Regions from separate parts of the Homo sapiens genome. Here region 1 is linked to region 2. The links come from fine-mapping of genetic effects on gene expression. A gene starts in region 2. The other region holds a variant in brackets. All regions are shown on one strand. Distances are between the middles of the regions.

The links. PIP is the estimated chance that this variant, and not a neighbour inherited with it, causes the effect. A credible set is the group of variants that fine-mapping cannot tell apart.
Region 1: its variant is the best candidate, but not a certain one, in a credible set for the expression of TBKBP1 in whole blood (INTERVAL, PIP 0.56).

The regions. Positions count from the first base shown.
Region 1 is chr17:47,735,196-47,744,455 of GRCh38, reverse strand. It overlaps TBX21 (T-box transcription factor 21), which reads right to left. Exons shown (of 6, transcript NM_013351.2): 2 at 1,692-1,846; 3 at 1,264-1,385; 4 at 103-261. Among named protein-coding and RNA genes, the nearest start is that of TBX21, 6.6 kb to the right of the region's middle. The variant C/T (reference allele first, on the strand shown) is at 4,428.
Region 2 is chr17:47,688,559-47,702,918 of GRCh38, reverse strand. TBKBP1 (TBK1 binding protein 1) reads right to left here and starts at 8,758. Exons shown (of 10, transcript NM_001394755.1): 1 at 8,725-8,758; 2 at 6,582-6,840; 3 at 6,086-6,208; 4 at 5,726-5,830; 5 at 4,144-4,324; 6 at 3,424-3,599; 7 at 3,222-3,283. The coding sequence starts at 6,806. RefSeq lists silencers at 7,158-7,317, 8,100-8,159, 8,410-8,539 and enhancers at 6,962-7,642, 7,643-8,322, 8,323-9,003.

The DNA.
Region 1 (9,260 bases), 44 kb before region 2:
TGAGTCCTGAGTCTGGGGCTCGGGAACTTTCCAAATCCCTCCCAAGGAAGACAGTGGGCCCCACTCTGCCCTCCTCCCCACCGGGGCTCAGGCAGCCCTCACCTCGGCATTCTGGTAGGCAGTCACGGCAATGAACTGGGTTTCTTGGAAAGTAAAGATATGCGTGTTGGAAGCGTTGCAGGCTGCCTCTGGCTCTCCGTCGTTCACCTCAACGATATGCAGCCGGGGCTGGTACTTATGGAGGGACTGGAGCACAATCATCTGTAGACAGAGCAAGACGGTTGTAGGGGTGGGGAGGAAGGATTTCGAGGATCCCATCACCCCCACCAACAGCTGGCCCCACGTGAGGCTAGCAAGCACCTTGAGGTCATCCTGTCCATTCCCCTGCTCTGCCACCATGTAACTTCCCCCAAGCTTTCCAACTCCAGTGTCCGGACTCTTTGGGGCACCAATTCTAGCCTCTTGCCCCCTCTTCTACCTCCAGATGTCAATTGAGACCAAGGTATCAGCACAAACAGGGCTTTAGGGCAAGGGCACTTTTTTTTCTTTTTTCTTTTTTCTTTTTTTTTTTTTTTTGAGACGGAGTCTCACTCTGTCACCCAGGCTGGAGTGCAATGGCATGATCTCAGCTCACTGTAACCTCTGCCTCCCGGGTTCAAGCGATTCTCCTGCCTCCGCCTCTTGAGTAGCTGGGATTACAGGCACCCGCCACCATGCTTGGCTAATTTTTGTATTTTTAGTAGAGACGGGGTTTCATCATCTTGGCCAGGCTGGTCTTGAACTCCTGACCTTGTGATCCACCCGCCTTGGCCTCCCAAAGTGCTGGGATTATGGGTGTGAGCCACCACACCCAGCCAGCAAGGGCACTTTTAACAGGATTGTTCAACCTAGAGAAACTCGGCATCTATTCCCTGGGACCACAGGGCCAACTCTGTGCCTTTCATGGTGCCGGAGCAATGGCAACCCATGATTTGGTGAAGAAACCCTGAGGCTGGGTTGGCCTGTGTGGCCTGAATATGACCCCCGTCCAAGATTCAGCTTCATCCCATCTCATCTTCCTCCCAAGGTGGGTGAGAAACAGCCAGAGTTTAGGAAGGAGGAAAAATGACCCTTCGTTTAGGACAGAAGAAAAACGAACCTTCCTTCCTGTAGGAAGGAAGAAAAAATGAACCAAACTGGCCCCGCAGGACCCTTGTGGCCTTGGAGGTCTCAGACCCAGGGTGGGGAGCAGGGCGAGGCTACCTTTTGAAGAGCAGGTCCTACCTGGGTCACATTGTTGGACGCCCCCTTGTTGTTTGTGAGCTTTAGTTTCCCAAATGAAACTTCCTGGCGCATCCAGTGCGCTCCTGTGTTGGGGGAGTCCGGGTGGACGTACAGGCGGTTTCCTGTGGACAGTTCACCTCTTTGACATGCAGCCCCCGGGACAGAACCCTGGTGATGTAGGGCTTTGCCTGTCCCGAGAGGGACGTAAGGAAGGACACAGGGGGAGGACCAGGCAGGGAAGGGCAGAGGACTCAGCAGAGGACAGGCTAGAGCAAAGCAGGAAGCCAGAAACAGGAGGGATGCAATGGCGTGGGATGGAGTGGGAGGGGGTTAAAGGTCTAGGAATTAGGGGTAGGGGCTTGGTGGGCCCACCAGGGGGCGCCCAGTCCCAGCGAAACAGAGCCCACCGCTCCCAGGGGCGCGCGCACCTGGCATGCTGCCCTCGGCCTTTCCACACTGCACCCACTTGCCGCTCTGGTACCGCCAGTGGTGCTGGTCCACCAAGACCACGTCCACAAACATCCTGTAGTGGCTGGTGGGCTCCAGCCCGGCCACAGTAAATGACAGGAATGGGAACATCCGCCTGGAGAGAAGAGAGAAAGCCCCCAGCACCCATCAGCTCCAGCTTGACAGCCAGTCCCCCCTGCAACAGTGCCCAGGCATCAGTGGTGTGCTGTAGCCGGCTTCCTCCCACTCACAAGAACCAGCTGGAAGGTGTTTAGGGAGTTTGCCAGCCAGTGGTTAAACACAGCCATAATTAAAAATTAAATTATATAAACTTGCAATTCAAGACATATTAACAGTCAAAGTAGGCCCGGCACAGTGGCTCATGCCTGTAATCCCAGCACTTTGAGAGGCCAAGGCGGGCGGATCACCTGAGGTCAGGAGTTCGAGACCAGCCTGGCCAACATGGCGAAACCCCGTCTCTACTAAAAAGTACAACAACAACAACAAAAATAGCTGGGTGTGGTCGTGGGCGCCTGTAATCCTAGCTACTCAGGAGGCTGAGGCAGGAGAATGGCTTGAACCCAGGAGGCAGAGGTTACAGTGAGCTGAGATCGCGCCACTGCCCTCCAGCCTGGATGACAAGAGCAAGTCTCCATCTCAAAAAAAAAAAAAAGGAGTAAAAACTAAAAAATCATCACTGCCCAGTTATTTTACGTTTTACTATTGTCTGCACTGTCGAGGTTACTTCCGTCTATCGCAGCTGCATGGAGGAGGTACTAAATCACAGTGCACTGTGAGTCTCTTCCCGGCTCTGTGTTCAATGACTCACATGAGTCGCTTGAAATCATCCATAGCAGGAGTATTTACACCACAGGGATCAGCAAACACTACAAATCAGAGTTTTTTAAAATGTTCTTTCAGAGGGTCAGTTGCTCGACATCTACCTGCACACCCCTGTCTCTAACCTTAGCTGCTTCCTAGGAGGGGGCACCACCAGCTCTCCACAGGCAGTTCCTGGAAGGTCCTCACGCCTCAGTTCCTCAGCCACCCTCTCTGCCGTGGCTCTCACAGTGCTAACACACTCCCAGACCCATGACACCCACTCACAGGCCCTCCCTCTCCCATGCTCCTGGGTCTGCCACCTGCGGTATAGTCTGCCCTCAGCCTTTAGAGAAGTTGCACACATCCTAGTTGAACAGGGAGCTTCCCATCCACCTGAAAGAAGGCTCTATTGAACACGGGGCTCATGTTCAAAGTCCTTGTTTCCAGGAAAAGTAGAGGAAGTTAGGGGGTGGGATGCTGTATGATTCCGCTGTTGTGCCAGAGTAACAGATTCAGAAAAGAAGCACTCTTCTACCATCACCATCTCCACCACTAACACCTTCACTAGCCCCGTCACCACCACCACTACAACCAGCACCATCACCACCAGTAGCACTGTAACCACCCATCACCACCATCACAACCACCGTCACTACAACTGCCCCCTCCACCATCACGATAACCACGATCTCCACCAGCACCAGCACGGGCACCACCATCTACAGCCACCACCTTCACCATCACAACCACCACCAGTAGTACCGTCACTACAACCACCACCTCCACCAGCACCAATTCCATCACCAGCTCCAATGGCTTAGCCTTTCTCTTCTAACACAAGCAGGAAGAGCAGAGTTTTCAGAATGGCAGAAGCTAATCCTCATCAGAATTATTTTTCATTTCCACACACTTCCCCCTCCTCTCATGAGAAGCCCTGAAGGATGAGGAAAAAGGGACCTATCTGAGTCAGGAAACCTGGAGGAGGGAGGGTTCCAGGGGCCTAGGAACTGTTTTTGAGGGACTTCTAATCCCCAGAGGTCCCCAGGACAACTTACCTAACAACCTTGGGAAGGTGTCCTAGAAGGGTGCTGTCACACGCCTGTCTTCCCCTGACTTTCCTGAGTTGAGAAAAATAGATTACTACCCTATGACCCTGGATAAGTTAATTCTCAAGCCAAATCTCAGTTTCTTTTTGAAATGGAGTTTCGCTCTGTCATGCAGGCTGGAGTGCAGTGGCGTGATCTCAGCTCACTCTAACCTCCACCTTCCAGGTTCAAGTGATTCTCCTGCCTCAGCCTCCCAAGAGCTGGGACTACAGGCATGTGCCACCATACCCGGCTAATTTTTGTATTTTTAGTAGAGATGGAGTTTCACGTTGGCCAAGCTGGTCTCGAACTCCTGACCTCAAGTGGTCTACCCGCCTCAGGTTTCCAAAGTGCTGGGATTATAGACATGGGCCACTGCACCCAGCCCAAATCTCAGTTTCTTCACATGTAAATGGAGAGTCTAACTCCTGTCCATCTTTCCTCTGAAAGCTGTTAAAAAGTTCGAAAGATGGCCCAGCACAGTGGCTCACACTCGTAATCCCAGCACTTTGTGAGGCCGAGGAGGGTGGATTTCCTGAGCTCAGGAGTTCGAGACCAGCCTGGCCAACATAGTGAAACCCCATATTTACTAAAAATACAGAAAATTAGCCTGGTGTGGTGGCATGCACCTGTAGTCCCAGCTACTTTGGAGGCTGAGGCAAGGAGAATCGCTTGAACCTGGGAGGCGAAGGTTGCGGTGACCCGAGATGGCGCCACTGCACTCCAGCCTGGGCAACAGTGTGAGACTCCATCTCAAAGAAAAAATAAAAAATAAAATGTTATTTCCAATTTTATATTTGAAGAAACTGA[C/T]GCTCCGAGAGGTTTGGTGACGGTCCTCGGTGGGAGAGCAGAGGTGAGGTCTTCTGACTGCAGAGTGCATGCTGTGCTCTGTGGTCCCCATTTCTTCATATTCATTTTTTTCTTTCTTTTTTTTTAGACAGAGTCTCGCTCTGTCCCCCAGGCTGGAGTGCAGTGGTGTGATCTCGGCTCACTGCAACCTCTGCCTCCCAGGTTCAAGAGATTCTCCTTGACTACAGGCACCCAACACTGCGCCTGGCTAATTTTTTTTTTTTTTTTGAGACGGAGTCTCGCTCTGTTGCCCAGGCTGTAGTGCAGTGGTGTGATCTTGGCTCACTGCAAGCTCCGCCTCCAAGGTTCACGCCATTATTCTCCTGCCTCAGCCTCCCGAGTAGCTGGGACTACAGGCGCCCGCCACCACACCTGGCTAATTTTTGTACTTTTAGTAGAGACGGGGTTTCACCATGTTAATCAAGCTGGTCTCGAACTCCTGACCTCAGGTGATCCACTGGCCTCGACCTCCCAAAGTGCTGGGATTACAGGGGTGAGCCACCGCGCCAGGCCATACTGATTTTTTTTTAAGAGATGGAGTCTGCTATGCTGCACAGGCTCTGCTCAAATGCCTGGGCACAGGCAATCCTCCTGCCTTGGCCTCCCGAGTCACCCGAGCGGGGTTATAGGTGCTCACCACCATGCCCAGCTCATCCTGTTTTTATCACTAGTAGAGGGAAATGGAGACACAGGAAGAGGCTGGGGAAAAGGGAGAAGAGAAAGGAGATCTCGGTTTCTCCCTAAAAGTCTAGAATCACCACCAGCTGGAATCCCAAAATAGCCCCTGATTTACATGACACTTTGCTGGGAAGGAACCGAGAGTGGTGATGGGTCTGGTGTCAAATTGAGCGTCCCTAAAGGCCACTTACCATCCCACCCTCATAAGACAGGGTCCAAGACCCCAAATTCCTCTGCTGGCCCTAAGAACTAAGTAGCCTTGGGATGGTTCACAGGGTCGTCATACCTCTCCCAGATTCGGAGCTCCTGGCACAGGCTCTGCTTCACTGTAATTAAGTGCAAATTAAAATAGCAAGGAGATAGATAGTTCTTCTCAGTCATATTGGTCAATGTTTAAAAATTGATAATATTGGCCCGGCGTGGTGGCTCACGCCTGTAATCCCAGCACTTTGGGAGGCCGAGGCAGGTGGATCACCTGAGGTCAGGAGTTTGAGACCAGCCTGGGTAACATGGTGAAACCCCATCTCTATTAAAAATACAAAAATTAGCCAGGCGTGGTGGTGCATGCCGGTAATCCCAGCTACTTGGGAGGCTGAGGTGGGAGAATCGCTTGAACCTGGGAGGCGGAGGTTGCGGTGAGCAGAGATCATGCCACTGCACTTCAGCCTGGGCAACAGAACGAGACTTTGTCTCAAAAAAAAAAAAAATGTGATAATATCTACTGCTGATGAGGCTGTGAGAAAATGGGTCCTCTCATAGACTATTGGTGTGGGCGTAAATTGGTAGCACCTTTTGGGAGGGTATTCTGGCAATGTGTCGTACCTACCAAAGTACAAAATGTGCTTGGGCATCAAGGGAACTCCTCGTCTTACCAACCTCAGATCCACTTAATAGACTCAGACAGCCACTGGCAAACAGCCAGACAAAAAGCAAAGCTGCAGCCTGGGCAACATAGTGAGACCCCATCTCTACAAAAAATAGAAACAATTAGCCGGACATGGTGATGTGCGCCTATAGTCCCAGTTTCTCAGGAGGCTGGGATGGGAGGATTGCTTGAGCCCAGCAGGTTGAGGCTGCAGTGAGCCATAATCGCACCACTGCACTCCAGCGTGGGTGACAGAGCAAGACCATGTCTCATTTAAAAAAAATTTTTAATTAAAGTTGTTTTCACTTGCCCCAAGACAAATGAAACCAGTTAAGCATGCTTAAGCCTAAAAAAAATGTTTTTAGCTGGGCACAATGGCTCATGCCTGTAATCCCAGCACTTTGGGAGGCTGAGGCGGGAGATTGCTTGAGATCAGGGATTTGAGACCGCCTGGGCAACACAGTAATATTCTGTCTCCATAAAAAATAAATTAAAAAAAATTTTTTAAGATCTGAAAAGTTGGGCCAGGTGCGGTGGCTCACACCTGTAATCCCAGCACTTTGAGAGGCCGAGGCGGGGGATCACTTGAAGTCAGGTGTTTGGGACCAGCCTGGCCAACATGGCGAAACCCCGTCTCTACTAAAAATACATAAATTAGCTGGGCTTGGTGGCTTCTGCCTGTAATCCCAGCTACTTGGGAGGCTGAGGCAGGAGAATCACTTGAACCTGGGAGGTGCAGGTTGCAGTGAGCCAAGATTGAGCCACTGCACTCCAGCCTGGGGGACAGAGTGAGACTCCATCTCAAAAAAAAAAAAAGATGTAGAAAGTTATCGACTAAAGTTATCTATGTGGGAGGTTCAAGTCCACTTCCTGGCCCATGAAAAATATTACAAATAAAAAAATTAAAGTTCTTGGAGTTGGGAAAGTGGAGACAAAAAAAAATTGTAATGACTGTGAGGATAGCAAGGATAGTGTGGGACTGAAATTGTTGTTTTACCAACCTCTGTCTTCACATGCACAAATCCAAATGCAGATTGAGCTTAACACAACACAGCTACCCAAAGTTATCTTAATTATAATAATCAACCAATCACACCCAGAAAGTGGGGATTGCCAGCAATTAATACACACCCACACACCCACAGAGACACAGGCCTCTCTCTTCCTCTACTGAGAATGTCTACCATCAACTATTATATACTCGCCAACACATTCGCAACACACACACACTGCCACACAGAAACCCTCGCACAAGCCTGTGTGGGGCATTATCAGGCTGCCCCAAATCTCCAGACACAAACGTAGACACCAAAGTCTCCTACTGGGATAATCCACCGTTTTGTTCTCAGTTCCCCTCTCTCAGCCCCATCTGAGCTGCCTTGATCAATCTCCAGACCCAGGAATCACCCCCTGTGCCCTGCCCCATTTCTGCCCGTTGGGAAGAGCATGCCACTGGCGCTGGTCAATACCGAGGGATAGATCCAGGGTGGGTGGGAGAGGAAGAATCCGGGACGGCGTGAGTCAGCTCAAGGCAAAAAGCCGTGGGGCTGTAGGCTGTAGGTGGGCCTGAGGTGGGAGAACCTTTCAAAAAGGAAGAAGGTCATGGGTGATGTGGTGTGACTGGTGGGTCACTGGAACCCACGGAGGGATAGGCCAGCCCACAAAAGCAGGAAGACGGAAAGGAAGCTGTGCTATAAGCCCAAAAGCCTGTTTTGAGAGGAAATGGCCACTGATTTCCCAGATCTCAGGAGCCCAAGCTGAGAAGGTATGGAGGTAACCTGGGGCTAGTGGGACTGAATTGGGGTTGTGTGTCCTCTGTCCCCTCCATGGCAGCGTGGGGTCTATGAAGCCTGATCCAAGAAAAAGCACCAAAAGAAACAGTGAAGAGCCACTGCCTCCTTCAACAGGGACCCCGCGTATGGAGCCCCTCAGAATGGAGCAAAAAGTGTGAGGATTGGAAAACACACACACACACACATTTATGAAGCAATCAGAGAAGCTTGGTGATATTTAGGAAATTCTTTTCAGGTTTGCTAATGGTAATGCATTCATTTTAAAAAGTCATTTTTAGAGGTGCAGAGATAAAATAATATCTAGAATGTACTTAGTAATTACTATATTACTAATATAGTTGCAGACAGAAGAAGCGAAGTGAGGATGCAGAAACAAGATTGGACCCATATTGACAACTGTGGAAGCTGGGGATGGAAGTCTGTTACATTCTTCTGTCCATGTTTGTATGTAGTGGAATTTTTCATAATAAAAAAATGTAAGTGTATGTATCTAAAAGGGGGACAAAAAAACTTGTCAAGTGAGAATTACTCAGCAGGAACACCAAGGAAAGGAGGCCATGGGAGTAGAGATGGTGATACACACTTCGAGAATCATCCCCTCAAGTGCCTCCCTGAAGTGCTCTACAGCCTCCCTGAAGCTGGCTCTACAGGCAGAGAGGCAGCCCCCTAGCACTGGCCAACTCCCTAGAGTGCTGGCTGATGCTCCATCCACCCCATCCCTCAAGACTGGCAGGAGGAGGCAGAGGCCTGGCAGAGGCTGTGGGGAGACCCCAGCAAGGGCCCAGGGTGGGAAGTCCTCCTGACCACACAACAGAGTGGAAGGTTAAGAGGCCCCACTTCTGGTCTGCTGTGTGATGGAGTGCAAGCCCCTAGCTGACCCTGCAACTCAGTGACCTCAACTGTAAAATGGGGAGACTGCTTGGCCTACCTAACGCACAGTGAAATAATGGAAGTGAAAGCACTCTGAATGCATCAGGGCCTTCAGAGAGCGTGGGTGGCTGTTTTTACTGGTGGCCGTAGGGGGCCAGAGAAAGAAACCCAAGCAAATACTATCTGGGCTGTAGTGCCAGCTCTGCCTGCAATGAGTGTGTTGTGTGACCTTGGAAGAGTCTCTTGCTATCTCTGGGCCTGTTTCCCTGTCTGTGCAGTGAGAGGGACAGGATCTTCTGGGTCCCTTCCAATTCAGACACATTGGGACCAGAAGCTTGGGCTGTGTCTGGGTACACCCAAAGGGTGACTAGGGTTGGGGGGAGCAGAGAGAAATTATCAGAAGGCTTAAGAGATGAAGGCTGAGCCATCAAAGAACACGCCAACTTTCCTGGGTTCATCCCAGGGAAAGTGGAACAGCTCAGTAACTTGAAGCCAGTTGTGGCTGGCAACAGGTTCCCCAGTCCCAGGCTACCCCACAAAAATCATCTGGAGGGAAGAATGTTCCAGCAATGCCCAGATCGAATACCA
Region 2 (14,360 bases):
GAGCTGGGCCCAGAGAGAAGGGGGTTGTGGGTGCTGCGCCTTCCACCTGGGCTGGGAACCCCCCAAGGGTCAGGGTCTTTACCTCCCTGTGCATCCTCAGGAGCAGGGTGGGCTCTGCTCCCACCGCCTCCCTCATCACTGCCTTTGGCCTCTGCGTGACCCCCAGTGGCTCTTCCTCTGGGGCAATTTGTCTCCCTGGGCTCTGTCCCCAGGAGCTGGGCAAACCAAACCATGGGTTTCCCAGGGGGTCAGACCTGGAGGGTAGTAGTCTGCCTCGGTCTGGTCTGGGTGTCTGTTTTCGTGGGAACGTTAATGGCCAGAACTTGTGGGCCAGGGGCTGGGAGGGAAGGAACTGGGAAACCCTGGGGCTGGGGCTAGGATCCAGAGAAGGGAATTAATAGAGATGGGGGTGGGGGCGGTTAACCTTGAGGACTCCCGCAATAAAACTGGCTGCCCCGGAGGTGTCTAGACCAAGACAGGTGGGCATACATACATACAGAGTTCACCATACAGAAGACTCCCGCCTAAGAGTGGGCTGGACTCAGGAATTGGGTGTACCCCTCTTCAGCCTTCATATCCTGGTCCTCCTCACCCCAATCACACCCCAAACCTGGGTCATCCAGCCTCGACACTCACTCCACTCCCGGAAAAGCCTACTTGTAAAATTCCCACCAGCCTGGAAAGTCAGGTGGAAACAGAAGAAAGAGGGGCACTAGTGGGGGAAGAGGAGCTGAAAGCAAGTGACTGAGGCTTCCTTGGGTGGAAGGACAGGGGAGGGAGCACTCGGGAAGCAGCCTATTACCAAAAGGAGCTGAGTTTATAAGAAAATAAAACTATCGGGGTAGTGAGGACTTCCTCTGAGAATTAACGCTCGCCAAACTAGGGCTGTCCAGAGATGCTCGCTCGGCCTGAAAGGAAGCGTGTGGCTGGGCAGCAGAGCCTGGCTGGCTCCAGATGCAGAGATCTGGGAGGCTGGAGGCAGAGCCTAATCACAGGGAAGGAGGGGAGGAGCCAGGAGGTGGCCTCCAGTAAGCCTGTGGGGCCAGCCCCCAAGCAGAGGCCAGCTCCCTCCAGCCAAAGGGCCTGAGAAGGGCAGGAGCCTTGAGAGAGAGAGGGAAGGGGCTGCTCTTGCCAGAATGGGCAGCGTGGATGATACGGCCTCCTAGCCCCTTATAGGGTGGGCTTCCTTTCACTCACACAATACAACCTTGGCCCCTGGGAGCCCTGCCCCTTCTCTGCTTCTACCCACCGCCTCACCTTCCTCTCCCATCTCTCAGCAATGACTGGCCCCTGAGCCTGTGAGGGAAACTGGATCCAGAGAGGTAGAGTCCAAGTCAGTAAAGAAAGGCCCCTGGGATTCAAAACCTGAAGAGCCAGACTCCAGCCCCACCAAAATGTCCTCCCTTGGAGTTCTACCAATTCAGGGAGATTCACTGCTGGTCTGGTAAGAGGGGACTGGGTTCAGTGACCCATGAAGGGCCCTACATCATGACTTCTGGGGCAAGCTAGGATTGGAGAGTGTGAGAGAGAGAGAGAGAGAGTGTGTGTGTGTGTGTGTGTGTGTCTGTGTGTGTCTGTGTGTTCCAGGTCTGGGCACATGGGCTATGATGGGCCCCAAGCTCCAGCCACAAGCTAGGGTGGACCCTCTCCACAAAGGCCTAGCTGAGGGGTCCCACCCACCAGTCCCACAAACTGGGTTCTCACCACCTCCCCAGCTATCACAGCTCCACCCAAGCCCTCACTCTTAGGTAGGGAGGTAGGCGAGGGGTATCCCCAGTTGGCCAGAAGCTGGGAGGCAGATAAGGAAGAAGCCTGCTGGGCAGGAGACCTCCGGAGCCCCGGAGCTGGGTATGCTATGCGGTGGAGGGTTAGTTCCTGCCCCTCTCTGGGCCTCAGTCTTCTCCTCCAATTAGAGTAGGGAGTCTGTGCCACACAGCTCATCTTAGGGGAGAGGACTTAGGCGGAAAGAGGTTTGAGCTCTATTTCTCAGAAAGTGGGAGAGGGTGAGTTCAGTGCGGATGTGAAAGGCACCAGGTTCCACTGTTGCCGGGTGGCTGCTCACCCCTCCCTTGCTGTCCAGTGCCCCCCTGGAGGCCCCAGCACTGGGCCCCCCACCAACACAGCTCCCTTGCCGCTCTCTGCTGCCCCTTTCTTGGTAGGATTCAAGGGAGTACCCTAGCAGAGCAGATTCTAACTCCCCACCCCACGGCTGTGTGAACCCATGGAAACCTCTCCTGTCTCTAAGCCTCAGGCTTCTCTCTCCTGAGATCAGCAGACAAGGCCCAACAAATCCCAAGAAACACCACCTCCCTCTTCCTCACTAGGGAGGGGAGGGTGAACCCAACTGGCCGGGCCTTGTCACTGGAATAGAAAATGGGGCCCTACGGAGGCCCAAAAGCTCAGCAGGGGACATTACACTGGACACAGCGACAAAGCAGCCGAGTAAGTGTCACTTAGCCCTGGCATCTCCAGAAGAGATGGGTTTGGGCCCCAGAGGAAAGCAAAGGGAATGTCCCAGATCCCAAACACTCAAGAACCCCACCTCCCAGGAGTCGAGACCAGCCTGACCAACATGGAGAAACCCCATCTCTACTAAAAATCCAAAAAAAAAAAAAAAAAAAAAAAAAAAGGTCCGGGCGCAGTGGCTCACTCCTATAATCCCAGCACTTTGGGAGGCCGAGGCGGGCGGATCACAAGGTCAGGAGATCGAGACCATCCTGGCTAACGCAGTGAAACCCCATCTCTACTAAAAATACAAAAAAAAATTAGCCAGGCGTAGTGGCGAGCGCCTGTAGTCCTAGCTACTCAGGAGGCTGAGGCAGGAGAATGGCGTGAACCAGGACGCGGAGCTTGCAGTGAGCCGAGATTGCGCCACTGCACTCAAGCCTGGGTGACAGAGCAAGACTCCGTCTCAAAAAAAAAAAAAAAATTAGCTAGGCATGGTGGTGCATGCCTGTAATCCCAGCTACTCGGGAGGCTGAGGCAGGAGAATTGCTTGAACCCGAGAGGCAGAGGTTGCGGTGAGCCAAGATCACGCCATTGCACTCCAGCCTGGGCAACAAGAGCGAAACTCCATCTCAAAAAAAAAAAAAAAGAACCCCACCTCCTTCCTATGAAGGATGCACACAGAGCAACAGCAGCCCAGACACCACACCCCTGAGGGCTGGGAGGGGAGGTCTCCCAAACATCACGGAGGGACCAGGGTTACCAATGTGACTTACTGATCATCCCCAACTCTTTTCACCCACGCCATGTCTCGCTCCGACTGGTTGGAGGCCAGATCCTAAGGAAGAAGATGAAGAGGTCAGAGCCCAAGCTCACCCCTGCCAGGGCCCTTGTCTACAGTTCCCTGGGCCAGTCTGCACACAGTGGGGAAGGCCCAGCCCTGGACCTCCAGAAGCTGTTCCAGGCCCCTGCATTTACCTGGGCCCGGGTCTCCTGCAGCTGCTTCAGCTCCCCCTGCAGCCGCTCGCACTCGGCCTGGAGCTGCTCCTCCCGGAGCTGAGCCCCCCGGGCCTCTCCCTGCGCGGCCTCCAAAGCCTCTTCTAGCCGCCGCCGCTCCAGGTCACTCACACTGGGTGTGGAGCCCGGCCAGCCTGCTGTCGGTGGACAGGACAACGTCAGGCGAGCTCAGCTGCCTCCTCCAGCTCCCAGAGCCAGAGTGAAACAGGAGGATGCAGCATGGGGACTCCAAGAGAGAAGCCAGGACAGCTAGCCAAGGAGGGATGACTGCGACAAGGGCAGCGAGGAAAGATGGGCTGAGCCGCATTTCTAATTTTCCTGGAGGCCAGGAAAAAAATAAGATGGGCTCTTGAAGGCTTTACTGGCCAGACTCAAGTCTAGAGCATCTGCAAGGGCCTCTCCTAGTCACAGCCAGAGACGGGGCGGGGGGACTCTGGGTGGGGGCGCCCTCTGCTGGCAGGCACAGGAATTGCAACGAGGTGATCAGGAATGACCGAGTTAGAAGGGGAGAAATTAGGGTAACAGTGGGTGAGGTGAGGGGACAGCAGGTAAGGGAGGATGGGATGATTATGGAGAAATAGATTATATTACAAATGGGATGGTAAGTAAGTGCGAGGTGTCTAGGAATGTTGAAATGGGGGTTGGGGACTAGGAGGTAAGTCGGGGTCACTGAGATCTCACCATGACTCAAGCCAGATCCCCCTCTCAGTGCCAGGTAGTGCAGGTCTAAATCAGTGCAGGGAGGGGCGGGGGCTGGCGGTGGGCTCAGGTTGGAGAAGGCTGCATCCTGGAGGCCTTGCTGTTGCCGCAGCTGCTGCTCCAAACCACAGATCTGACGCAGGTGCGTCTCCACCAGGGCCCTCTGGAGAGAGAGACAGAGGGGAGGGTCTGCACAGGCCCAGGACTTCCCCATGTCTGGAGAGTCATCACCCCAGACTACAGCAGAGGCCCCAGGTCACACATCCCAAGCCCACTCTCCAAGTGGCTGTGAGTGCAAAGTCTCCTCTCAGCCACCGCAATGCAGCTGTTGCGGGCTGTTGCCCCTGGCGAGGTCAAGTTAATGCCCCTGCTCTGTCATTAACACACAGGGACACTTAAAAGAACACTCAGCCCCCTGTTTGGAGGCCAGCCCCCCTCAGGAGCATCAGAACTTCCATTTGCATACATGACAAGAGCTTCTGGACTTCACCCACCTGATCCATAAAATGGGGATAACAGTCCCACACTCACCTCTTAGGGTTGTTTTGAGAATTAAAATGAGCTAGTGTATGCCAGGTGAAAAGAACAGTGCCTGGCACACCCCGAGTGCCACATAAATATCTATGATTATGAAGGCAAAGCATCTATACATGAATGCCCCATCACCCTCACCACAACCTGGTGAGGGTGTTAATATTTGCCCCACTTTTCAGAGGAGGGATGGAGGCTAAGTGACTTAACTGAGGTCATAGCTTAGGGTTGGCTGAGACCATGTCTCCTGATTTTTTTTTTTTTTTTTTTTTTTTTTGGAGACAGGGTCTGGCTATGTCACCCAGGCTGGAGTGCAGTGGCTTGATCTTGGCTCACCAAAGCTTCGATCTCCTGGGCTAAAGCGATCCTCCCACCTCAGCCTCCTGAGTAGCTGGGACCACAGGTGTGCACCACCACACCTGGCTAACTTCTTTTTTGTATTTTTTGTAGAGATGGGGTTTCACTATGTTGCCCAGGCTGGTCTCAAACTCCTTAACCTCCCAAAGTGCTGAGATTATAGGCGTGAGCCACCATACCTGGCCTGTCTCTTGATTTTGACCTGCTCACCGGCACAGCCATACCCTGACTCGGAAGCACACCCAAGCACAGGCCCATCCTAGCAGTCACACACTCCTGGTCACCTCTGCCCTCACCCTCACAGCCTCCCAAGGGCAGTGCTCACAGGCACAGGGTCACCCCAGCGTGAGAGCCAGGGCAGTGCTCACAGGCACAGGGTCACCCCAGCGTGACAGCCAGGCATACACACAGAGACAGAGGTTCCCACGGGGCCACTGCATGGCCAGGATGCACACAGACACCGCAACATGGATAACACATGCAGTCTCCCTCACAAGGGCAAATGGGCGGGCACTCACAGATACACATGAACACAAGCAGGGCACAAACAAGTGATGTGTGACACATGGGACTGCACTGTCACAGGCTGGAATCCTCACACACAGAACTAAATGCACACATGCACACACACAACCAGCTACACATCCTCAAGCACCTCCGGCTCCCCAGGCCTCACCATCTCCCTCAGCTCTGTCTCCAAGTCACTCTTCTCCACGCAGAGTTTCTCGTAGGCCTGGATCATCTCTCCAAGCTGTTCTTCCTGCTCCTTGTTCTTCTGTAACTGGATGAGGCCCAGAGGGCCCCACCACAGGGTCAGTCCCACACTGGACTTGGAGTTGGAGAGCTCCCTGCACCTCCCCACCCCCACTCCCAGCACCCTATGGAGGGGCAGGAGGAGCTGCAGCTGGGCTTAGGGAGGACCTGGCCATCTCTAATCAAAGGGCAGAGGCCAGATGCTGGGGGGTGTGGAGGGAAGGGTATCAGAAACAGACTGGAGCAAGATGCTCAGGGGGTGCGCCCAGCCTGGTAGGCTCACCTCATGCTGGAACTGGTTGAGCCGTTGCTGCAGGCTGACCTTCTCCACCTCCAGCAGGGAGCCATCCTTGATTTCATACAGAGAAAAGCCATGCTCCTCTCCAAAGTCACTGATCAGTGGGTACTGCAGGTGGGGTGGAGCTTCAGGAGAGTGGATTCCCGGGTGCCCAGCCCAGGCCTCAGCCTGGCTGTGCCCCCAACCCACAACCTGCCTCAGACCTTTGACCCTCCTTCTCCTTGGCTAGTGGGATCCCAATTCCCATGGGTCTGTAGCCATCTCCCACCCACCGGATCTGTTTTAGATCCCAGATCCAGCCCTTCTGAAGCCAACAGGAGACAGTTCGCATCCGGAACAGCCACGTCTCTCATGGGAGACCCTCAAGTTCCCAAGAGTCTGCACAGTGACCCCTCTTTTGGATCCCTGGTATCTACCAGATTCCCAGTCCCCCTCCCCATCCCATACACTCTATCAGGCGCCCTCCTCTCCAAGTTCTGACCTTGATCTCGTAGACTTTGAGGCGGCGTCGGAGGGTGGCGTTCTCCCTCTCCAGGCCCCCCAGCCGTTCCTTGATGTCTCCGTAAGCAGTGATGAGGGCAAAGTGGGAGGCGGAGCACATGTCGCCCCCAAGCGAGGGGTCTCCGGGACTGTCCAGCCACACCTCACTAGGCCCCAGGGCCTCCTGCGTCAGGATGCTGATGTCGTCCTCGAACATGGACTCCATGGTGAGGGCCGGGCCGCGGCCCACACGGGGCCTCCTAGGAGAGCAGGAGCAACCGTGGACAGGGCCGTCTGTCTAGGGTTTGTCCCTGGTACCCCTCTCCCTGGCTCTGCACTCCCTGGGGCCGGCTAAGATGCAACCCAGAAACTTCCTGCCCCGAGCTCAGCAGGGACTCCCATGGCCCCTTCCCAGACTCCTCAGCCCCATCCTCTCTGCCGCCTTGGGGAAAAGGGGCTGGAACCAGGTGAAGACCCCGCTGCCAGGGTGTTGACAAGTAGGGACAAGTAAGCCAGGCCGGCAGCAGGGGCAGGCTCCTGCCAGAACCCAGGGAGACCTGTGGATGGGAGAGGGCTGCCTTCCCAGCCGGGCCCGGCCCATTCCTCCGCGCTTCTCCACCCCAGGCCTTACTTCCCCAAATACCTCGCCGCCAAGCTCCTCAGCCTGGGCCTCTGGCACCCCAGCTCCTCCCCAAGGAAGGCCCAGAGCTGCGCGAGGGTCGGCCCCTCCACAGTCGGCACGCCCTCGGCTGCACCCCCGCCCAACTTCCCCACTTCCTCCCGCAGGATCCCAGAGTTCAGGAAAAGGAAGCGCCTCCCCCGGGCGCACCGGGGCTGTGGCAGCGGTCCAGGACCCCTTGGCCCCTGACCTGGGACCCACAGGAAGTCCTTGGCTGAGTGTTACGGGGCGCAAACTGGGGAAGGGGACCCAGGTGGAAGGGGACGCGAACGAATTCCCAAGGCTGTCTCAGGGTGCCCGCGCACCGGGAAATGGGGAACCCTACGAGGGGGCAGGAATGACTCAGGCTCCCGAAAGCAGGAGTAGGCAGTGAGGGGGTGCGTGTGTACTTCTCTCGGGCCTGGTTATGAATGTGTGTCTGGGGTTGGCGTATGGGGGGAGTGTGCGTCTGTGAATGAGTGTAGGTGTGTCAGTCAATGAGTGCCTTCGGGGTCGCAGGGGCGTCGGGACGGAGTGGGGCAGCGACCAGGAGGCTGGTGTGTGCACGCGTGCGTGAGCGCGTGGGCAGGGTGGCACGTCCGGGCCGCGTGTCACGTGAGACGCGAGGGGACTGTCCGAGGTGTGTGCGCGCGCTGGAGCGTTATGTGCACCCCGGAGAGGGGGCTCGGCAGGGAGCTGTGAGTTCAGACAGCGGGGCCCCCAGGTCGGGCTGCAGGAGCTTGGGGTGCAAAGGGCTCCGGCGCAGGCTCCAATTCAATCCACCCCCCCCCCTCCGCCACCCACAGGCCCATCTAAGTGCCAGGGAAACGCGAGTGACTGGGTCTGAGTAAGGAGTGTGTGCGCGCGTTTGTAGGGCCGGCCCCACCTTTAACCCTCTCCTTCCCACGCCATCCCCTCCCCCCAGCTCCGCGCGCCAGCGCTTACCACACCCCCCCAGACCCCCGCCCGCCCCTCTGCGCCCACCCCGCTGGCGGGGCTCTGTCCCCGAGGCCGCACCACAAATGCCTCCTTCCTCCGCATTCCTCTCTGGGCCCAGCGCCCGGGTGAGCGCAATGGAAGGCGGCTGGGGAAGGGGTGAGTGCCTCTGTCGGCCCGGGCCCCTCCTGCGGCCCCTTTAAGAGCCGCCCTTTAAACCCCTTTCGCTCGGCCGACAGAAATTGTCGCCCCTCCCCTCTCGGGGGCCGAGACCACGCAGCCCCCTCCCCCACAACCGGCCGAGCCCTGGGCCCCCGGACACCCTCTCGGGGCCGGGGAAGGGGCTCCGGGAGTGGCGCGGCCTGAGGAACGGCGGCGGAGGGGGACGCGAGGGGATGAGGGCGGCCGACACCGGACCCCTTCCCTCCCAGCCATCCCGTGCGGCTGCCAGCCGCCCTCCTGCCGCCTCCTCCTGCCCACCCCGCGACCCCTGGGGCCCAGCCCGGGCGCCGCTCCCCTCCCCCAGCCCTAGCCCCAGCCGGGGACTCACAGCTGCTGCCGGTTCCTGCTTGTAATCGCAGCTTACCCCCTCCGCCTGCTCCCTCCCCAAACGGGCACCAGTGCCCCCACCCCCCTGGTACCGCGCTCTGCTCCTCGCCCTGTCGCCGCCGCCGGGTCTCTCCCCACCCCCCACCCCTCCCCCCAACCCCCTCCCTCCCGTCCGCCCCGCTCCTCCTCCGCCGCCGCCGCCTCCTCCGCCTCCTCCTCCCCGGCTGCTCCGGGTTTCTCCAGCTGGGAAGGCGCCCCGGACCCCGCCGCTGCCACCACCACGTGGCGAGAGGCGGCGGCCCCTACGGTGCGGCCCTTCCTGGCAGCGCGCCCGGAGCCCACCGGCTCCCTGCGGCGCCAGCGGCCCGCGCTGGCGCCCCCTCCCCGACGCCTCCCGGCGCAGTGTGGCGTGGTGGCGTGTGTTGGGGGCGTCTGCGGTCAGTGCAGGGGCCCGGCTGATGCTTTGGTTGTTTTGGTTGTTTAGTTATGGGCTGTATATTTGGGGAGGAAGTGGGGCTATTTATCTGGCTTTTTTTTTTTTTTTTTGGTCTTTGCGCTTTTGAGAAGGAAATCATTAGACCTGCTCTTCGTTGCTCTTGGTAAAAGGGGCATTGCTGCGATAAATACATTGAACATAGGGTACAGAGAGATTAAAGCTGTAACTTCTTTGGAAGTGAGAGTAAACTAAGGAGGTCAAAGATTCATTCATGAAGAAGGACAGCCATCTCCCTCCCCACACACCACTCCCCGGCCACCCTCAAGTACCCACAGGTCAGGGAAATGAAGAAACAACAGATGTCACCCTGTGCACAAAGATTATTTGAGCACCTGCCAAACTGCTGGGCAAGAGAAACAAGTTTTTTGCTACTTTCCTGCTGTGTGACCTTGGGCAAGTTACCTTAACCTTTCTAAGCTGGAGATCATGCCCCACCTAAGCACTCTCATGGAGGAAGAATGGGGATCAGAACTAAATACAGCAGCCTGCGAATGCTCAGGAAGTGTTAACGATGTCATTTTGAGTATTGCCTGGTGGATTAAATAATGTGGACAGAGGCATGGTCAGCCTAGCTGCAGGTAGAGAATGATCAGGGGAACCCTGGAGCACTCTGGCTGAAGAGCATCCTCTGTGGACAGGGAGGCAAAGCCCGGAAGCAGGGGATAAGCTGGGCGGGGGCTTTTGGCAGATTCAGCCTTAGCTGCGAAGACTGCTGGGAACCTGAGCCTACCTTTTTGGCTCCTGAGGTGGGATGGGGGTGGGAATCTCCGAGGGGGAGGATGGAAGGAAAAGGTTTCTTGCTCTCTCTGAGCTTTGAAAAGCAGCAGCTGCCATCTTTCCTCACTGCTGGGAGAAAATTGGACTGAGAGGTGAGCTTCTACCAGGAGAGCCAGCCAGAGCTCTAGACTCATTCTCTTCATAGAAGGGGGGATTCTCAGTGGCTTCCTTCCTCCTCCTCCTGCTGGGTTCCCTTTCAGTCTTTCCTGCCAGCACTGGCTCCCGTTTGTAGTCCAGAACAGGAAGGCAGGTCAGCCACTTGTTCTCTGAGGCACTAGCTTTCTCTGAACCATGTGGGATGACCTATCTACCCTCTAGATATGAAGGCAAACCAGTGGGGACATCTGTCACCCCACTAATCCCAAGGGCTAGGCAGATGTTCCTTTCCCTAGTACTCCCCAAGATCTCTTCTGAAGCAAGGGACCAGGCAAAAGATTGGAGGCTAGACTAGGAGGTGTAGGGTTGTCTCTGGGACCCTCGGTGACCTTGGACTTGGCCACAAACAGGACCCATAAGACCAACTGGCAAGCCCTCCCTCACTGGAAAAAGGGGTCCCAGGACCCTCTAAGCACACACTGTCTGGGATGAGTCATCAGCCCCCTGCTGCTGCTTGGATGCTCAGGGCCTAATTGAGTCACCTGGCAGGGTGCAGCCAAATGCTTCTATCCTTGGTTCTAGGTGGTTGGTGGCAAAAGTCCATTAGGCCTGGTTTAGGTGCCCTAAAATCCTCCCCCTCCCCCAATCTGGACCTGATCTCATTGCATTCTCCATTTCTAGTTCTGCTGCTCATACCAGGCAGTTCTGAGAGCAGAGATTATATCCCATCCATCCTTGTATTCTAAGGTGCCCTGAGGGTTGGTACCTGCTCGTTGTATATTTATTCGGCAAAGATTTCTTGAACATCTATTATGTGCTGGGTGCTGAGAATACAGTGCTGAACATGTCTCTGACAGGTATACATGTCTCTTGCTCTCTTAGAGCTTGCAGTATGGTAGAGAAGTCAGAAAAATAAAAAGATGAATAAGTAAAACCACTAGAAATTGTGATAAAGGACCAGGCACAGTGGCTCATGCCTGTAATCCCAGCACTTTGTGGGGCTGAGGCAGGCAGATCACCTGAGGTCAGGACTTTGAGACCAGCCTGACCAACATGGTGAAACCCGTCTCTACTAAACATGCAAAAATTAGCCAGGCATGACGGTGGGTCCCTGTAATCCCAGCTACTCGGGAGGCTGAGGCAGAAGAATTGCTTGAACCCAGGAGGTAGAGGTTGCAGTGAACCGAGGTGACCCCATTGCACTCCAGCCTGGGTGACAAGAGCGAAACTCCGTCTCAAAAAAAAGAAAGAAGGAAAGAAGGAAGGAAGGAAATTGTGATAAAGGATAAAAAGAAACACCAAGGGGCAGTACTAGAGAAGAATGGGAGGATGGGATCTGCTTCACAGTATTCAGAGAAGGTCTCCTTGATGAGCTCTTACAATTTTTTTTTTTTAAAAGACAGGGTCTTTCTCTGGCGCCCAGGCTGGAGTGCAGTGGTGCAATTTTGGCTCACTGCAGCTTCGCCCTCCTGGGCTAAGGTGATCCTCCCACCTCAGTCTCCAGGCGTGGTGGCTTGCGCCTCAGCTGGGACTACAGGCGTATGCCACACGCCCGGCTAATTTTTGTATTTTTTGTAGAGACAAGGTTTCACCATGTAGCCCAGGCTGCTCTCAAAATCCTGGGTTCAAGCCATCCACCTGCCTCGGCCTCCCAAAGTGCTGTGATTACAGGCATGAGCCACCGCACCTGGCTAAGCTAAATCTTAAAAGAGTAAGAAAGTATGTTCTTTGTTGAATGAATAAATAAATGAGGCAGTGTGACTTAAGACTACTTCACTTTTCTAGGCCTGTTTCCTCATCTGAGAAAGCTGAACATTGGTCTGAATACCCTTTTTATTTTTATTTTTATTTTTTTATGAGACGGAGTCTCGCTCTGTCACCCAGGCTGGAGTGCAGTGGCGTGGTCTCCGCTCACTGCAAGCTCCGCCTCCCAGGTTCATGCCATTCTCCTGCCTCAGCCTCCTGAGTAGCTGGAACTACAGGCGCCCGCCACCACGCCCAGCTAATTTTTTGTATTTTTAGTAGAGATGGGGTCTCGATCTCCTGACCTCGTGATCCGCCTGCCTCGGCATTCCAAAGTGCTGGGATTACAGGCGTGAGACACCATGCCCAGCTGGTCTGAATCCCTTTTAAGAGCCCCTGGTATTGGCAGGGCTCATCATGGTGGAGACAATAATAGGGGAGATGGTGAAGGGGATAGGAGCCACAGTGGGAGGACAGTGGGGAAAGTGGTGGACAGTGGTCAGGCATGAGTTGTAAAACATTTCTAAATGGCCTTCACAGGTGTGATAACAGAGGACCCACCTCCAATCGTTAAGGTAGGAGAGACAGTGCAAATGCAGGCCCCCAGAGCCAGGCCCTGCCAGTGTTTCCTCCTTGGAAACCACCAGGGAGACTCTCCCACTCCCATGACTCTTGCTCTGGAGGCTGTCTTTCCTGTCCCATTATTGCCTGAAAAGAGTAGGAGGAGGTGACATTAGCAGCCAGTTAAAGAGGCTGAATCAAAATAAAACCCAGATGACTCAAATGGAACCCTGGCGGGCAGGAAAATTGATTAGCCCCATGTGACTGCAGGATCTAGGTGCCACCTTCGCCCTCCAGTTCCAGACCCTAGAAAGTGGGCCATTCACCATGCAAGCATCCTGGGACTCCAACTGCAGCTGCAGGTGTTCCATCAGATGGGAGGGTAGGGCAGTGGTAGAAAGACATTCCTTCACCACGTCCCCAAATTCCTGTGGAGGTAATGCAGAGCCCCTAATTGAATTAGTAGGGTTTGGGAAGGAATAGAGTGGTTTTTTTTTTTTTTTTTTTTGAGACGGAGTTTCACTCTTGTTGCCCTGGCTGGAGTGCAATGGCACCATCGCGGCTCACCGCAGCCTCCACCTCCCGGGTTCAAGCAATTCTCCTGCCTCAGTCTCCCGAGTAGCTGGGATTACAGGCATGTGCCACCATGCCTGGCTAATTTTGTATTTTTAGTAGAGATGGGGTTTCTCCATGTTGGTCAGGCTGGTCTCAAACTCCCAACCTCAGGTGATCCCCCACCTCAGCCTCCCAAAGTGCTGGGATTACAGGCATGAGCCACCACGCCCAGATGTTTTTTGTTTTTTATAATTCCATATGTGCTTCATTTTTCTCCACAGCCATGTTCATTTCTGCTATCTCCCAAACAGAATTTTTAAAAGGTTATATTGAGGTCAGGCGCGGTGGCTTACGCCTGTAATCCCAGCACTTTGGGAGGCCGAAGCGGGTGGATCACAAGGTCAGGAGATCGAAACCATCCTGGCTAACACGGTGAAACCCCGTCTCTACTAAAAATACAAAAAATTACCCGGGCGTGGTGGCGGGCGCCTGTAGTCCCAGCTACTCAGGAGGCTGAGGCAGGAGAATGGCGTGAACCCGGGAGGCGGAGCTTGCAGTGAGCCGAGATCGCGCCACTGCACTCCAGCCTGGGTGACAGAGCAAGACTCCGTCTCAAAAAAAAAAAAAAAAAAGTTATATTGAATTATTGAATATTGATTATTTATCCATCAGAATGTGAGCTCCACAGGAAGATTTTGTTTGCTTATTCACTGCTATATCCCCAGTGTCTCCTGGCACGTAAACAGTTGTTTGGTAAGTGCAGTAGCGCAATCACATCTCACTGCAGACTTGATCGCCTGGGCCCAAGTGATCCTCCTGCCTCATCCTCCCACCACACCTGGCTAATGTGTTTTTTTGTTTTTGTTTTTGAGATGGAGTTTCGCTCTTGTCGTCCAGGCTGGAGTACAATGGCGCGATCTCAGCTCACCGCAACCTCCACCTCCCAGGTTCAAGTGATTCTCCTGCCTTGGCCTCCTGAGTAGCTGGGATTGTAGGCATGTGCCATCACGCCCAGCTAATTTTGTATTTTTAGTTGAGACGGGGTTTCACCATGTTGGTCAGGCTGGTCTTGAACTCCTGACCTCAGGTGATCCGCCTGCCTCGGCCTCCCAAAGTGATGGGATTACAGGCGTGAGCCACTGCGCCCAGCCTGTTTTTTGTTTTTGTTTTTGTTTTTGTTTTGTGAGACAGAGTCTTGCTTTGTTGCCCGGGCTGGAGTGCAGTGGCGCGATCTCAGCTCAATGCAACCTCCGCCTCCCAGGTTCAAGCGATTTTTCTGCCTCAGCCTCCTGAGTAGCTGGGACTACAGGCATGCACCACCATGCCCAGCTAATTTTTGTATTAGTAGTAGAGATGGGGTTTCACCATGTTGACCAGGCTGGTCTCAAACTCCTGACCTCAGGTGATCC